Regions from separate parts of the Homo sapiens genome. Here region 2 is linked to region 1. A link means that fine-mapping ties the variant in region 1 to the expression of a gene that starts in the linked region. Tissue or cell type: subcutaneous fat. Region 1 holds a variant in brackets; the other region holds the start of a gene. All regions are shown on one strand. Distances are from middle to middle.

Region 1 (8,101 bases):
TTAGCCAGGCGTGTTGGCGTGGGCCTGTTAGTCCCAGCTACTCAGGAGGCTGAAGTGCGGGGATCACTTGAGCCTGGGAGGTCAAAGCTGCAGTGAGCTGTGTTTGCATCACTGCACTGCGGCCTGGGCGACAGAGTGAGACCCTGTCTCAAAAAACAAAACAAAACAAAACAAAACAAAACAAAACAAAACAAACAAACAAAAAAAACCTGTCTATCTGTTCCATGGAATAGGTCTAAGATCTCCAACACATCTCATTTGCTAGTTTGCTAGTGAGAACAGTTGTAGAACTAGTAAACTCTATTATTTTAAGCATTTGATCATTTTCTTTGTGGGATTAACTGAAGCTAATCAATAATTTCTTACTTGAATAAAAAATAAAATGTTTAAGAATTAAAAAAAAAAGTGTGCAGTCAGCTGCACATAAAATGTCAGGGTCTGGGATAGGAACAGGTGCAATTTCTACAGTGGCTGCTTCCATTTTCTCCCGAGACAAGAAGCCAGATCATAAGTTGAGGTGAGAAGAAAGGGAGACAGATAAAGCATGAGGAAACATCCAGGAGTTGGGGAAGGAAGCAAGACCGTAGCTGCAGCTGGGGACAGGGGAGTCACATGCGACATTTTTTCTCTTTTTTTTTTTTGAGATGGAGTTTCGCTCTTTTTCAGACTGGAGTGCAATGGCATGATCTCGGCTCACCGCAATCTCCGCCTCCCAGGTTCAAGCAATTCTCCTGCCTCAGCCTCCCGAGTAGCTGGGATTACAGGCATGCGCCACCACGCCCGGCCAACTTTGTATTTTTAGTAGAGATGGGGTTTCTCCACGTTGGTCAGGCTGGTCTCGAACTCCTGACCTCAGGCGATCCATCCACCTCGGCCTCCCAAAGTGCTGGGATTACAGGTGTGAGCCACCATGCCCAGCCAGCACATGCGATTTAAGAGAAGGAAGCGGAACAGAGAAGCCTGCAGAGAAAGAGGGTTGGAGCTAATGGTCAGGCCCAAGAATGTGGGGATGGAGACCCTGTGGGGGTGAGCTGAGAAGCTAGGAGGAAGCGGTCAGAGAATGGAGATGCTGGAAACTCACAGAGGGAGGAGGGGAGCCATTATTGGTGACGGCAGTGGCTCCCAACATTGGCCAGATGTCCAAATCACCCAGGGTAACCTTTTAAAATCCCAAGGCCTAGGCTACACTGAAGCAATTACATCAGACTCTGTGAGGGAGGACCCAAGTATCAGTATTAATTTTTAAAAATGCCTCAGAGGTCCGGGCGTGGTGGCTGACACCTGTAGTCCCAGCACTTTGGAAGGCCAAGGCGGGCAGATCACTTGAGGTCAGTAGTTCGAGACCAGCCTGGCCAACATGGTGAAACCCCGTCTCTACTAAAAATACAAAAATTAGCCGGCGGGGTGGTGCATGCCTGTAGTCCCAGCTACCTGGGAGGCTGAGACAGGAAAATTGCTTGAACCCAGCAGGCAGAGGTTGCAGTGAGTTGAGATTGTGCCACTGCATTCCAGCCTGGGTGACACAGCGAGACATGGTCTCAAACAAAAAAAAAAAAAGGAAAGAAAATAAATGCCTCAGAGGTCTAATGTGCAGAGAACTGGCCTGGGGTATGATTGGAAGAGAAGGGCTGAGGTCAGGTGTAGCACAAGATAGCTGGCCAAGAGAGCAAGGGACCCAGAGGTCTGGGTGGTCAAAGGATCCTCTGTGTTACTTTCTAAGCGTCTAAGAATTAGGGCAGGAGTGGTAGAGAGCGCCAGTGAGAAGGAGCTGAATTTTTTTTTTTTTTGAGACGGAGTCTCACTCTGTCACCCAGGCTGGAGTGCAACGGCATGATCTCAGCTCACCATAACCTCTGGGTGAGGTTGAACCCACTGGGTTCAAGTGATTCTCCTGCCTCAGCCTCCCGAGCAGCTAGGATTACAGGCATGTGCCACCTCACCCAGCTAATTTTGTATTTTTAGTTAAGACAGTATTTCTCCACGTTGGTCAGGCTGGTCTCGAACTCCCGACCTCAGGTGATCCACCTGCCTCGGCCTCCCAAAGTGCTGGGATTACAGGCGTTGAGCCACCGTGGCCAGCCAGGGGCTGAATTCTTCAAGAAACAAAGAGCAGTCACCAGAGGGACTGATACCGGGCAGGAAGTGACGACACACACACTTCAAAACTGGGGGTTTCTGGCCCGGCGTGGTGGTTCACGCCTATAATCCCAGCACTTTGGGAGGCTGAGGCAGGCAGATCACCTGAGGTCAGGAATTCAAGACCAGCCTGGACAACATGGCAAAACCCCGTCTCTACTAAAAATACAAAAATTAGCCAGCGTGATGGCACATGCCTGTAACCCCAGCCACTTAGGAGGCTGAGGCACGAGAATCAGTTGAACTCGGGAGGCGGCAGTTGCAGTAAGCCAAGATCGCGCCACTGCACTCCAGCCTGGGCAAGACTGAGACTCTGTCTCAAAAATAAAACAAAATAAAATAAAAAATACATATAAAATTTAGTTGGGCATGATGGCGTGTGCCTGTAGTACTAGCTACTCGGGAGACAGGAGAATCACTTGAACCCGGGAAGCAGAGGTTGCAGTGAGCCAAGATCGTGCCACTGTACTACAGCCTAGGCAATGGCGTGAGACTCCATCTCAAAAAAACCAAAAAACAAACAAACAAAAAACAACAAAAAAGACTGAGGGTATCAGAAGAGATAGGAGCCAGGAGGTGATCTAGCCTCCCACTTAGGGGGCTGCAGAAGTGGGGGGCCAGGTTCCAGTTAGAGCAAGAAGGGCAGAGCATGTCAGACAGGTAGAAGAGACGGAGAATTTCTCTTTCTTGAGACAGGGTCTTGCTCTGTTGCCCAGGCTGGAGTGCAGTGGTGTGATCACGGCTCACTCGCAGCCTCAAGCGATCCTCCCACCTTAGCCTCCTGGGTAGCTGGGAGTACAGGCACATGCCACCACACCCAATTAATTTTCAATTTTGTAGAGATGAAGTTTCACTATGTTGCTCAGGCTGGTCTGGAACTCCTGGCCTCAAGCAATCCTCCCACCTTGGCCTCCACAAGTACTGGAATCACGGGGGTGAGTCACTACACCCAGCCACTGGAGGACTTCTGATCAACGGTGTGTACTAGAGGGCTCAGTGGAAAGA[T/C]GGGAGAAAGGGGAAAGGGTCGGCCTCAGCCTGTGGGCACGGGGATGACCTGTGAGTACCTGCTCCGCGAGAGGATGATAATTCCACAAACACACACATGCAGAGCACTGGGCCCACCGCCAAAGCAGGAAGCCAGTCAGTGTGCACCGTTGTTACTTTTAGCACTCAGCTCCACATGGCCCTGCCATCTCCCCTGCCCCTGGACCCCAGGGAAGTTACCCAGAAGGCCTGGAAATGGCAGGTCTCCAGCAGGTCCCCGAGGTACAAAATCTGTCGGATTGGCCGTTCTTCTTGCTGGGAGGAGGAAGCATTAAGGAAAACTGGCCTCGGAGCGTAAGGTTGGACCCCAGATCACCCCTCCCCACCTACCTTCTTCTGGCTGCTTTCTTCCAAAGCTTCAGCTCAGAAAAACAGCTGGAAAAGGAAGCCAGCTTATTTCTCCTGCAGGTGTATGCAGGAGAAAGGATGTTGGCTGCAGGACTGTTTGTAATGGCAAAAGATGAGAAATGACATGCCAGTCCTGGTGGCTCACGCCTGTAATCCTGGCACTTTGGGAGGCCAAGGCGGGTGGATCACCTGAGGTCAGGAGTTCGACACCAGCCTGGCCAACATAGCGAAACCCCATCTCTACTAAACATACGAAAAGCAGCTGGGTGTGGTGGCACGTGCCTATAGTCCCAGCTACTTGGGAGGCTGAGGCAGGAGAATCACTTGAACCCGGGAGGAGGAGGTTGTAGTGAGCCAAGATCACGCCTTTGCACGCCAGCCTGGATGACAGAGCAAGACTCCATCTCAAAAAAAAAGAAAATATTAACAAAAAAACCCTACTATTATTACTAATAAAATAAAACCTATAGGCTGGGCACGGTGGCTCACATCTGTAATCCTATCACTTTGGGAGGCTGAGGCGGGTGGATCACCTGAGGTCAGGAGTTCGAGAGCAGCCTGGCCAACATAGCAAAACCCCGTCTCTACTAAAAATACAAAAATTAGCTGGGCGTGGTAGCATGCATGCACCTGTGGTCCCAGCTGCTCAGGAGGCTGAGACAGAATAGCTTGAACCTGGGAGGTGGAAGTTGCAGGAAGCCGAGATCACGCCACTGCACTCCAGACTGGGTGACAGAGCAAGGCTCCGTCTCAAAAAAAAAATAAAATAAATAAAATAAAACAACAACAAAAAAAAACCCACCTTAAATCATTCCTATGTCAGGCTTCCTCTACCATTCCTGAAAGACAGCACCGAGCTCTGCTTCCTTTAGCCCATGAGTGTCCTCTCTGCCTGGATCACCTTTGCCTACCCCTCCACCTAACTCGTTATGTTTTAGATGTTCCCTCCTCCAGGAGGCCCTGGTTTATAGTTTCTAGTTAAAAATACAGAAGAGTGAACAGTGGCAAAATAGGTCTTCCCTTCCCTGTCTCACAGCCATCCTTCCTGGGAGGTAACAGTCATTTCCAATTCTTGGGTACCTTTCCACCTTTCCAGACATTGTTCTATAGAATGTAAATACAGATGGCTGTGTTCATGTCCACATATTCCCCCACCCAAATGGTCAGGTGCCTACTCTGGCTCTTCTTTTTTTTTTTGAGACAGAGTCTCACTGTGTCACCCAGGGTGGAGTGCAGTGGCGCAATCTCGGCTCACTGCAACCTCCATCTCCCAGCTTCAAGTGATCCTCCTGCCTCAGCCTCCTGAGTAACTGGGACTATAGGTGTGTGCCACTGTGCCTGGCTAATTTTTTGTATTTTAATAGAGATGGGGTTTCGCCATGTTGGCCAGGCTGGTCTCGAACTCCTGACCTCAGGTGATCCACCCACCTTGACCTCTCAAAGTGCCGGGATTAGAGGCCTGAGTCATTGTGCCCGGCTGCTGTGACTCTTGTAACCCAACCCTGACCACTCCAGTCTATCACTGACTCTTCACTGGACTGCGACAACTTTGTGAAGACAGGGCCCAGGACTGTCTCAGTCACCAGTGTCCCAGCACTGTCCAGCACCTTGCCACGCTGGACCAGAGCAGGCACTTGTTGTTTGTGGATACACCCACAGACCATCTCCCTGGGAATTCATGCACCTTGACTCTGACCCCTTCCCACACACCCCCCGGCCCCAGTGCTGGAAGGATACATGTGCCTGGTCGATCATGCACTTGCACAGGGTGAAGTCTGTGTGCGGCAAGTTGGTGAGGGCCTTCAGCAGGATCTGGGCGGTGACCGTGGTCTGAAAGAAGGCTGGGTTGAACTGGTACCTAAGAAAAAGAACAAGAGACGTGGCCACAGTGGCACCTCCAAGTCCCCAATCCTCACCAGGTGCCAGGCAGCTGCTTTATTCTGGAGTTTGGGAATTGGACATGCCTGGGTTCCAATCCCAGTCCCAGTGCTTCCCAGCTGTGTAACCTTCACCTCCCTGAGCCTACCTTTCTCCTCTGTGAACAGGGACAGTTAATGCTCACAACTACCCAATGGGGCAGACACTGCTAAGTGATTTATAAACAAATGAGAACAGCAGCAGTGGTCTGGAGTAGTGGCTAAGGAACCAGAGCCAGACTGCCTCGGTTTAAACTTCCCTGCTGAGTGACCTTGGACTGCTTATTTATGACACGAGGAGCAGAGAAGAGAGAGATTAAGAGGCACTGAAAGGCTGAGGAGCAGAGAAAGGAAACTGAGGGGCTGACGGTTTCCTCCCTTGCAAAAGAGGACAACAGAAGGTGGCGGTGGGGGTGGGTAGGTGGGTGGCTCAAGCCTGTAATCCCAGCACTTTGGGAGGCCGAGATGGGCGGATCACCTGAGATCAGGAGTTCGAGACCAGCCTGGCCAACATGACAAAGCCCCGTCTCTACTAAAAATACAAAAATTAGGCTGGGTGCAGTGGCTCACGCCTGTAATCCCAGCACTTTGGGAGGCCAAGGCGGGTGGATCACCTGAGGTCAGGAGTTCGAGACCAGCCTGGCTAACATGGCAAAACCCTGTCTCTACTAAAAATACAAAAATTAGCTGGGTATGGTGGTGCGTACCTGTTGCGGGAAGTCAGGGACCCCAAACGGAGGGACCGGCTGAAGCCATGACAGAAGAACGTGGATTGTGAAGATTTTATGGACATTTATTAGTTCCCCAAATTAATACTTTTGTAATTTCTTATGCCTGTCTTTACTGCAATCTCTAAACATAAATTGTAAAGATTTCATGGACACTTATCACTTCCCCAATCAATACCCTTGTGATTTCCTATGCCTGTCTTTACTTTAATCTCTTAATCCTGTCAGTTGAGGAGGATGTATATCGTTCCAGGACCCTGTAATAATTGCGTTAACTACAAAAATTGCACAACATGTGTGTTTGAGCAATATGAAATGTGGGCACCCTGGAAAAAGAACAGGATAACAGCAATTGTTCCGGGAATGAGAGAGAGAACCTTAAACTCTGACTGCCGGTGAGCCGGGCAGAACAGAGCCATATTTCTCTTCTTTCAAAAGCAAATGGGAGAAATATCGCTGAATTCTTTTTCTCAGCATGGAACGTCCCTGAGAAAGAGAATGCGCACCTAGGGGTAGGTCTCTGAACGGGCCCCCCGGGGCGTACCTGTCTCTTATAGTCGAGATTGCAGAGGTGAAATAAACTCGTCTCCCATAGCGTTCCCAGGCTTATTAGGAAGAGGAAATTCCCGCCTAATAAATTTTGGTCAGACCGGTTGATCTCAAAACCCTGTCTCCTGATAAGATGTTATCAATGACAGTGGTGCCCAAAACTTCATTAGCAATTTTAATTTCGCTTTGATCCTGTGGTCCTGTGATCTCGCCCTGCCTCCACTTGCCTTGTGATATTCTATTACCCTGTTAAGTACTTGATGTCTGTCGCCCACACCTATTCGCACACTCCCTCCCCTTTTGAAAATCCCTAATAAAAACTTGCTGGTTTTTGTGGCTTGTGAGGCATCACGGATCCTACCAATGTGTGATGTCTCCCCCGGACGCCCAGCTTTAAAATTTCTCTCTTTTGTACTCTGTCCTTCTATTTCTCAAGCCAGCCAATGCTTAGGAATATAGAAAAGAACCTACGTGATTATCGGGGCAGGCCCCCCGATACGTACAGCTACTTAGGAGGCCGAGGCAGGAGGATTACATGAACCTGGGAGGCAAAGGATGCACTGAGTTGAGATCATGAGATCACGCCAAGGCACTCTAGCCTGGGCAAGAAGGTGAGACCCTGTCTCAAAAAAAAAAAAAAAAGGAAAGAAAGAAAGCACCCAAGTAAAATTAGCTGGGCATGGTGGTGCATGCCTGTAGTCCCAGCTATTCAGGAGGCTGAGGCGGGAGAATCACTTGAGTCCAGAAGGCTAAGGATGCAGTGAGCCATGACTGTGCCACTGTACTCCAGCCTGGGCAACAGAAGATCCTGTCTCCAAAAAAAAAAAAAAAAAAAAAAGGGCACGAAGAACCCACAATGTCCATCAAGAGCCAGAAGAGATCATTAGGACAGCCACACAAGTGACACAGTGGAGAGCTATACATCCATGACAACAAACTGCAGCCATATCAAAAACAAAACAAAAAAACAAAAAACACTGGATGGATCTCACAAACCCAGTGCTGAGTAGCAAATGGCAAATGCAGAAGAGTTTGTGCTGTATGCACTCCATCTGTATCAAGTTCAAAGCAGGGAAACCTGAGCTGAGCTGAGCCAGATGTATGCATGCATAGTAAACCATCACATAAAGCCAGGCCATGAGAGCATGGGGGAGCAGGGGAATTGGTTGGCATAGAGCATAGGGGGCAAAGAGCCTGTGGTGCTAGCAATAACTTTGCAACATAAATGGTGATTATGTAGGCTTTCATTTATAATGATTTGTTAAACTACATGTTTGCTTAATGTATTAGCCTGTACATGTGTTCTGTAATTAACCTTTATTTATTTTTGAGACAGGGTCTCACTCTGTCGCCCAAGCTGGAGTGCAGTGGTATGATCTT
Region 2 (8,081 bases), 120 kb before region 1:
GTTTTGAACTCCTGACCTTGAGTAATCCGTCTGCCTGGGCCTCCCAAACTGCTGAGATTACAGGCGTGAGCCATCGCTCCCAGCCTTTTTTTTTTTTTTTTTAGACAGAGTCTTGTCCTGTCACCCAGGCTGGAGTGCACTGGCACAATCTGGGCTCACTGCAACCTCCACCTCCTGGGTTCAAGTGATTCTTGAGCCTTAGCCTCCCGAGTAGCTGAGATTACAGGCATGCACCACTATGCCCAGCTAATTTTTGTATTTTTAATAGAGACGGGGTTTCACCATGTCGGCCAGGCTGGTCTCAAACTGCCGACCTCAAGTGATCCACCTGCCTCAGCCTTCCAAAGTGCTGGGATTGCAGGCATGAGCCACTGCACCCATCCAATCACTTTTCATTCTGGATCATACACTTTATCAATAGAAAATAACTCCTTTTGTCCAAAGTAATGCTATCTGCTTTAAATCCGGTTTTCTCTAATATCAGATTTGCCCTGATTTTTGTGTATCTGCTTTTGACTGATAGCTATTTCTAATCCTTTTATTTTAAAACTTGGTGGTGTTATCTTTGGAAAGTGTTTTGAAAGCTAAACAGTTGAATTTTGTTTGTTGATGTTCCCAAGTACGTTTCACACATTTGCATAATGTTGTTATAACTGATATGCTTGGTTTTATTTAGGTCATTGTGTGATGCTTTTTGCTTTTATTTTCTATGATTCGCTGCATTTTCCTTTGCTTTTCGACCATTGCCAAATAGATTACATTTTCTTTTCCTTTCATTTTAAGCTACTTCAGTGGTTTGAAAGTTGTACATCTGGCCAGGTGCAGTGGGTCAGGCCTATAATCCTAGCACTTTGGGAAGCTGACATGGGAAGTTTGCTTGAGCTCAGGGATTCAAGACCAGCCCTGGCAACAAAGTGAGACTCCATTCCACCAAAAAGTCTAAAAATTTGCTGGGTATGGTGGCACAAGCCTGTGGTCCCAGCTACTCAGGAAGCTGAGGCAGGAGGATTGCTTGAGCCCGGGAGGTCAAGGCTGCAGTGAGCCAAGATTGTGCCACTGCACTCCAGCCTGGGCAACAGAGTCAGACCCTGTCTCAGAAACAAAACAAAACAATACAAAAAAAGAAACAGTAAGACATGGCGCGGTGGCTCCTGTCTGTAATCCCAGCACTTTTGGAGGCCAAGGCGGGTGGATCACCTGAAGTGAGGCTTTCAAGACCAGCCTGACCAATATGGTGAAACCCTGTCTCTACTAAAAATACAAAAATTAGCCAGCCGTGGTGGCACATGCCTGTAATTCTAGCTACTCGGGAGGCTGAGGCAGGAGAATCACTTGAACCTGGGAGGCGGAGGTTGTAGTGAGCCAAGATCACGCCACTGCACTCCAGCCTGGGTGACGAGGCGAGACTGTCCCAAAAAATAAACCAACAAACAAGTGAAAGAAACAGCAGCCCAGATCCAAGGAGACAGGTTGACTGTGGATGGCCGAGGCCGCCCACCTCGGCCTCCCAAAGTGCTGGGATTACAGGCGTGACCCACCACGCCCAGCCAGAAAGCTCGTTTTGTAACCCACTTTTGGTAGCCATGTACGTAGGCAGCTTGGACAATATCTGTGGGTCCACTTGGAGGGAAGGAGGCCAGAAGGCTTGAGGGACATCTGAGTGGCATGGAGGTGACAAGGCTCTGGGAGGGCAGCAGACACTCTTGAACGCCAAGGCATGGTCAATGCCTCGTGCAGTGAGCAGCGACTCTGTGTCAGGCACTTCTCTGAACTCATCCCACGTACGAACTCATTCGCTTCCCACAGCAACCCTCCGAGGTACGCCCTATCATCATCCGCATTGCAGAGATGAGGAAACTGAAGCACAGAGAAGTTAAGTGATGTGCCCAAAGACACACAGGTGTAGGTGGCAGAGCTGGGATTGGACCCCAGGTGCTGTGGCTCCTAATCCCGGCAGGCTGGAAGCACTCCCATATGACTCCCGTGGGGCTGGGGTGGGCTTGGCAATCCTACACGAAGAAAACTTTTTTTTTTTTTTTTTTGAGATGGAGTCTCACTCTCTCACCCAGGCTGGAGTGCAGTGGCGTGATCTTGGCTCACTGCAACCTCCGCCTCCCAGGTTCAAGCGATTCTCCTGCCTCACCCTCCTGAGTAGCTGGGATTACAGGTGTGTACCACCATGCCCAGCTAATTTTTTTTTTTTTTTTTTTTTTTGAGACAGAGTCTTGCTCTGTCAACCAGGCTGGAGTGCAGTGGCGGCTCACTGCAAGCTTCGCCTCCTGGGTCCACGTCATTCTCCTGCCTCAGCCTCCCGAGTAGCTGGGACTACAGGTGGCCGCCACCATGCCTGGCTAATTTTTTGTATTTTTTGTAGTAGAGATGGGGTTTCACCGTGTTAGCCAGGATGGTCTTGATCTCCTGACCTCGTGATCTGCCTGCTTTGGCCTCCCAAAGTGCTGCTGGGATTACAGGCTTGAGCCACCGTGCCCGGCCTTTTTTTTTTTTTTTTTGAGATGGAGTTTTGCTCTCTTGCCGAGGCTGGAGTGCAGTGGTGCAGTCTTGGCTCACTGAAACCTCCACCTCTCGGGTTCAAGCGATTCTCCTACCTCAGCCTCCTGAGTAGCTGGGATTACAGGTGCGTGCCACCACACCCAGCTAATTTTTTTGTATTTTTTAGTAGAGATGGGGTTTCACCATGTTGGCCAGGCTGGTCTGGAACTCCTGACCCGCCCGTCTCGGCCTCCCAAAGTGCTGGGATTACAGGCGTAGTAAACTACCGCGTCCAGCCTAATTTTTGTATTTTTAATAGAGATGGTGTTTCACCATGTTGGCCAGGCTGGTCTTGAACTCCTGGCCTCAAGTGTTCTGCCCACCTCAGCCTCCCAAAGTGCTGGGATTACGGGCATGAGCCACCATGCCCGGCCCTGTTTTGGGGGGTTTTTTGAGATGCAGTCTTGCCCTGTTGCCCAGGCTGGAGTGCAGTGGCACAATCTCGGCTCACTGCAACCTCCGCCTCCCAGATTCAAGCGGTTCTCCTGCCTCAGCCTTCTGAGTAGCTGGGATTACAGGTGCCCGCAACTATGTCCGGCTAATTTTTGTATTTTAGTAGAGACGGAGTTTCACTACATTGGCCTGGCTGGTCTCGAACTCCTGACCTCAGGTGATCTGCCTGCCTCGGCCTCCCAAAGTGCTGGGATTACAGGCATGAGCCACCACGCCCAGCCAGAAAGCCTGTTTTGTAACCCACTTTTGGTAGCCGTGTACGTGGGTGGCTTGGACAATATTTGTGGGTCCACTTGGAGGGAAGAAGGCCAAAAGGCTTGAGGGACATCTGAGTGGCGTGGAGGTGACAAGGCTCTGGGAGGGCAGCAGACACCCTCAACGAGGGTGGAAGGTCTGCTGGGACCAGCACTGCTGAGGCTCTGGCATCTCCGTACCTGTTTCTCCCATTTCCTCCAATGGCTCCAGAGTCCTTTGGGGGAAATACTGCTCCATCCAGACTCTGAGTGGCGTGGGCCAGGGCAGGGCATCATGGTCACCAGATGGCTCCCAGCACAGGAGAGGTACAGAGCCATCCCTCCAGGGTCAGCCTCCCTGGGCAAGCAGGCTGAGTCTACCTTGTCCGGGAGGGGAGGAGGCGCATCCTGAGGGCTTAGGGGGCGTGAGCGGAGGGGAGCTCAGGGTCCCTCGGTGGATGATGGAGGAGCCACATATGGGTTACAGGGACAGACAGAAAGATGGAGAGGAAGAGACAGGGAGGCAGACACAAGGTACACTGACAGGGTCTGAAGGAGGAGGGGCTGGGGGCCTGGACTCCTGGGTCTGACAGGTACAGAGAGGAACAGACACACGCTGAAAGAGACACAAAGAGAGAGGGGACAGGCATAGTGATTCACGCCTGTAATCCCAACACTTTGGGAGGCCAAGCGGGGAGGATCACTTGAGCCCAGGAGTTCGAGACCAGTCTGGGCAACAAAGTGAGATCCCCGCCCCATCTCTACAAAAAAAAAAAAAAAAAAAAAAAGAGGGTGGGGTGGGGAGAGGGGTGGAGTTGGGGAAATACAGAGACACAAATATTGCCAGAAACAAAAAACAAGAAAGGGCCAGGCACAGTAGCTCACATCTGTAATCCCAGCTCTCTGGGAGGCTGCTGAAGCAGGAGGATCACTTGAGGCCAGCAGTTCAAGACCAGCCTGGGGAACATATGGGACCGCCCCCCGCCACCCCTCTGTCTCTACTTTAAAAAAAATTTTTTTTAATTAACAAAACCTGACCAGGCACAGTGGCTCACGTCTGTAATCCCAGCACTTTGGGAGGCCAAGGTGGGCGGATTGCTTGAGGCCAGGAGTTCAAGACCAGCCTGGTCAACATGGTAAAATCCCTTCTCTAACAAAAAATACAAAAATTAGCTGGGCATGGTGACACGAGCCTGTAATCCCAGCTACTTGGGAGGCTGAGGCAGGAGAATCACTTGAACCTAGAAGGCGGAGGTTGCAGTGAGCTGAGATCGTGCCACTGCACTCCAGAAACTGATGGAGAAGAAACATGAAGGCGGGGAGAGAGAAACTGTCAGAGGGAGGGGGAGAGAGGCAGTCTGAGAGATAGAGACACCGAGGTAAACCCGCCTCCTTCCCCAGCCCCACAGGCATAAGTAGGCAGAAGCTCACCCCCACACTGACCTCCTTCTTGGTGCTCTGACAGCGGCAGCCGGTCCTCCCTCAGCTCTGCCCGCCTTCTCTCCTGCTGCTGGCCAAGCCCATTAAGCTGCTACCTTGGCCACAACTGAAGGCCCCACGCCCTGGGAAGAAAGCTACTGAAGAGGCGTCCCTGCTCCCCAGCACCCCAAACCATCAATTAATATTAACGAGGGAAGGCTCCTCATTGCCTAAAGACCCCACTGGGGCTCCAATGGAAGAGAGGCCCCGCCCCCGTGACTCAGGAGGTTAAAGGGCCTGGTGCCGGCTTGTGAGGCCAGTGTCCAGATGGCATCCAGCAGTGGGAGGGTCACCATCCAGCTCGTGGATGAGGAGGCTGGGGTCGGAGCCGGGCGCCTGCAGCTTTTTCGGGGCCAGAGCTATGAGGCAATTCGGGCAGCCTGCCTGGATTCGGGGATCCTGTTCCGCGACCCTTACTTCCCTGCTGGCCCTGATGCCCTTGGCTATGACCAGCTGGGGCCGGACTCGGAGAAGGCCAAAGGCGTGAAATGGATGAGGCCCCATGTAAAGTGTGGCTGGGGTCTGGGCTCTGGGGTCTGAGGGAGGAGGGGCTGGAGGCATGGACTCCTGGGTCTGAGGAAGGAAGGCTGGGGGCCTGGACTCCCTGGTCTGAGGGAGGAGGGGCTCGAGACCTGGACTCTTAGGTCTGAGGGAGGAGGGGCTGGGCCTGGACTCCTGGGTCTGAGGGAGGAAGGGCTGGGCCTGGACTCTTGGGTCTGAGGGAGGAGGGGCTGGGGACCTGGACTCCTGGGTCTGAGGGAGGAGGGGGCTTGGACCTGGACTTCTGGATCTGAGGGAGGAGAGGCCAAGGCCTGGACACCTGGGTCTGAGGGAAGAGGGGGCTGGGGACCTGGACTCCGGGGTCTGAGGGAGGAGGGGCTGGACCTGGACTCCTGGGTCTGAGGGAGGAGGGGCTGGGGACCTGGATTCTTGGGTCTGAGGGAGGAGGGGCTCGGGACCTGGACTCCTGGGTCTGAGGGAGGAGGGGCTGGGCCTGGACTCCTGGGTCTGAGGGAGGAGGGGCTCGGGACCTGGACTCCTGGGTCTGAGGGAGGAGGGGCTGGGCCTGGACTCCTGGGTCTGAGGGAGGAGGGGCTCGGGACATGGACTCCTGGGTCTGAGGGAGGAGGGGCTGGGCCTGGACTCCCGGGTCTGAGGGAGGAGGGGGCTACCATGGGACTGGCTCAGCACAACTTCTGGAGACCCAGGGAAGCCATGCTCCTGCCCACAGGCTTCCAGGCCTTTCATGGGCTTGGAGGCCCTCACTCCTCTGGATGAGACCTTTCCTCGCTTTCTCAGGCTGAGGCCTGGAATCCCCCACCACCCACAGGAGTTCTGTGCTGAGCCGAAGTTCATCTGTGAAGACATGAGCCGCACAGACGTGTGTCAGGGGAGCCTGGGTGAGACCCTGAACCCACCTGGAGTCCTCAGATCCAGCTAGTTTCAGCTGAGATCCTGACAGCTCCATCCCTTTGTCCACCCACTCCCGGCCCCTGGATCCCTCCTCAGTCTCTTCTCTCCCTAGGCCTCTCTCTCCCTCCTCCCTCCTTCCTTCCTTCCTTTTTTTTTTTTTTTTTTTTTTGAGATGGGGTCTCACTCTGTCACCCATTCTGGAATACAGTGGCACCATCATAGCTCACTGCAGCCTTAACCTCCTGGACTCAAGCAATCTTCCTGCCTCAGCCTCCCAAGTAGCTGGGACTACAGGTGCATGCCACCATGCCCAGCTAATTTTTAAATTTTCTTGTAGTGGAGTCTTGCCATGTTGGCCAGGCTGGTCTTGAACTCCTAGGCTCACGTGATCTTTCTGCCTTGGCCTCCCAAAGTGCTGGGATTAGAGGCATGAGCCACCGCACCAGGCCTCCCTCCTTCCATCCTCACCTAATCCTGGCCTCTCCTCCCAGGTAACTGCTGGTTCCTTGCAGCTGCCGCCTCCCTTACTCTGTATCCCCGGCTCCTGCGCCGGGTGGTCCCTCCTGGACAGGATTTCCAGCATGGCTACGCAGGCGTCTTCCACTTCCAGGTACAGCTCAGTTCCTCTGCCCATGCCTCCGTTTCCCCCATGGTGACTTGGTGATATGGATTTTTCTTTTTTTTTTTTTTTGAGATGGAATCTCACTCTGTCATCCAGGCTGGAGTGCAGTGGCACAATCTCGGCTCACTGCAACCTTCGCCCCGCCCCCAGGTTCAAGCAATTCTCTGCCTCAGCCTCCTGAGTAGCTGGGATTACAGGCACCCGCCATCATGCCCAGCTAATTTTTTCTTATTTTTAGTAGAGATGGTATTTCACCATCTTAGCCAGGCTGGTCTCGAATTCCTGACCTCGTGATCCATCCGCCTCGGCCTCCCAAAGTGCTGGGATTACAGATGTGAGCCACCGCACCCGGCCAGCCATATGGATTTCATAGTTAACGTTGACTTGGGGCTGTAATTCCTGACTCTGGGACTGGCACAGCAGAGGCAGGGCCCAGGCAGGGTTGGAGGTTGGAAGCCGAGTCCGGCCCTGCATCTTCTCCCACCAGCTCTGGCAGTTTGGCCGCTGGATGGACGTCGTGGTGGATGACAGGCTGCCCGTGCGTGAGGGGAAGCTGATGTTCGTGCGCTCGGAACAGCGGAATGAGTTCTGGGCCCCACTCCTGGAGAAGGCCTACGCCAAGTGAGGACCCCAGTTCCAACCAGCTGCAGCCCTAAGTCCCCACAGCAGGCATCAAGCCACAGGGGGACCCAGAGTCCCCCAAGCTCTGCAATCCTCCAAACACCCCACCAAGAATCCCAAACCAAGTGACAACCGCCAGAACCCTCATATCACAACATCACCTGAGCAACTTCATGTTTTTTTTTTTTTTCTTTTTTTTTGAGACGGAGTCTCACTCACTCTGTCGCCCAGGCTGGAGTGCAGTAGCGCGATCTTGGCTCACTGCAACCTCTGCCTCCCAGGTTCCAGCGATTCTCCTGTCTCAGCCTCCCGACTAGCTGGGATTACAGGAGCGCACCACCATGCCTGGCTAATTTTTATATTTTTAGTAGAGATGGGGTTTCACCATGTTGGTCAGGCTGGTCTCCAACTCCTGATCTCAGGTGATCCACCTTCCTTGGCCTCCCAAAGTACTGGGATTACAGGTGTGAGCCACTGTGCTCAGCTGTACCTTCAAATCTTAAACCCCTCTCTCCATCAATATTTCACACAAAACATTCCTGGAGACCCCCAGTCACTCATAATTCTTAAGGATCCTGAAATCTCATATATCAGGCCCTGGATTCACCAAATCTGGGATTTATCCCCTCGGGTGAGCTGTATATCTTAGATTGTCTCTCCTGGTCCATTGAGAAATCTAAAGCACCCCCAAAATATTGGGGGTCACCCTG

What was found. PIP is the estimated chance that this variant, and not a neighbour inherited with it, causes the effect.
Region 2: CAPN12 starts here. The variant in region 1 is fine-mapped to the expression of CAPN12 in subcutaneous fat (GTEx, PIP 0.94).

Annotation. Positions count from the first base shown.
Region 1 is chr19:38,621,362-38,629,462 of GRCh38, reverse strand. EIF3K (eukaryotic translation initiation factor 3 subunit K) reads right to left here. Exons shown (of 8, transcript NM_013234.4): 3 at 5,266-5,386; 4 at 3,361-3,435. Among named protein-coding and RNA genes, the nearest start is that of EIF3K, 6.2 kb to the right of the region's middle. RefSeq lists enhancers at 5,235-5,736, 6,383-7,243. The variant T/C (reference allele first, on the strand shown) is at 3,142.
Region 2 is chr19:38,741,067-38,749,147 of GRCh38, reverse strand. It overlaps CAPN12 (calpain 12), which reads left to right and starts at 4,674. Exons shown (of 21, transcript NM_144691.4): 1 at 4,674-5,219; 2 at 6,046-6,115; 3 at 6,620-6,738; 4 at 7,238-7,371. The coding sequence starts at 4,983.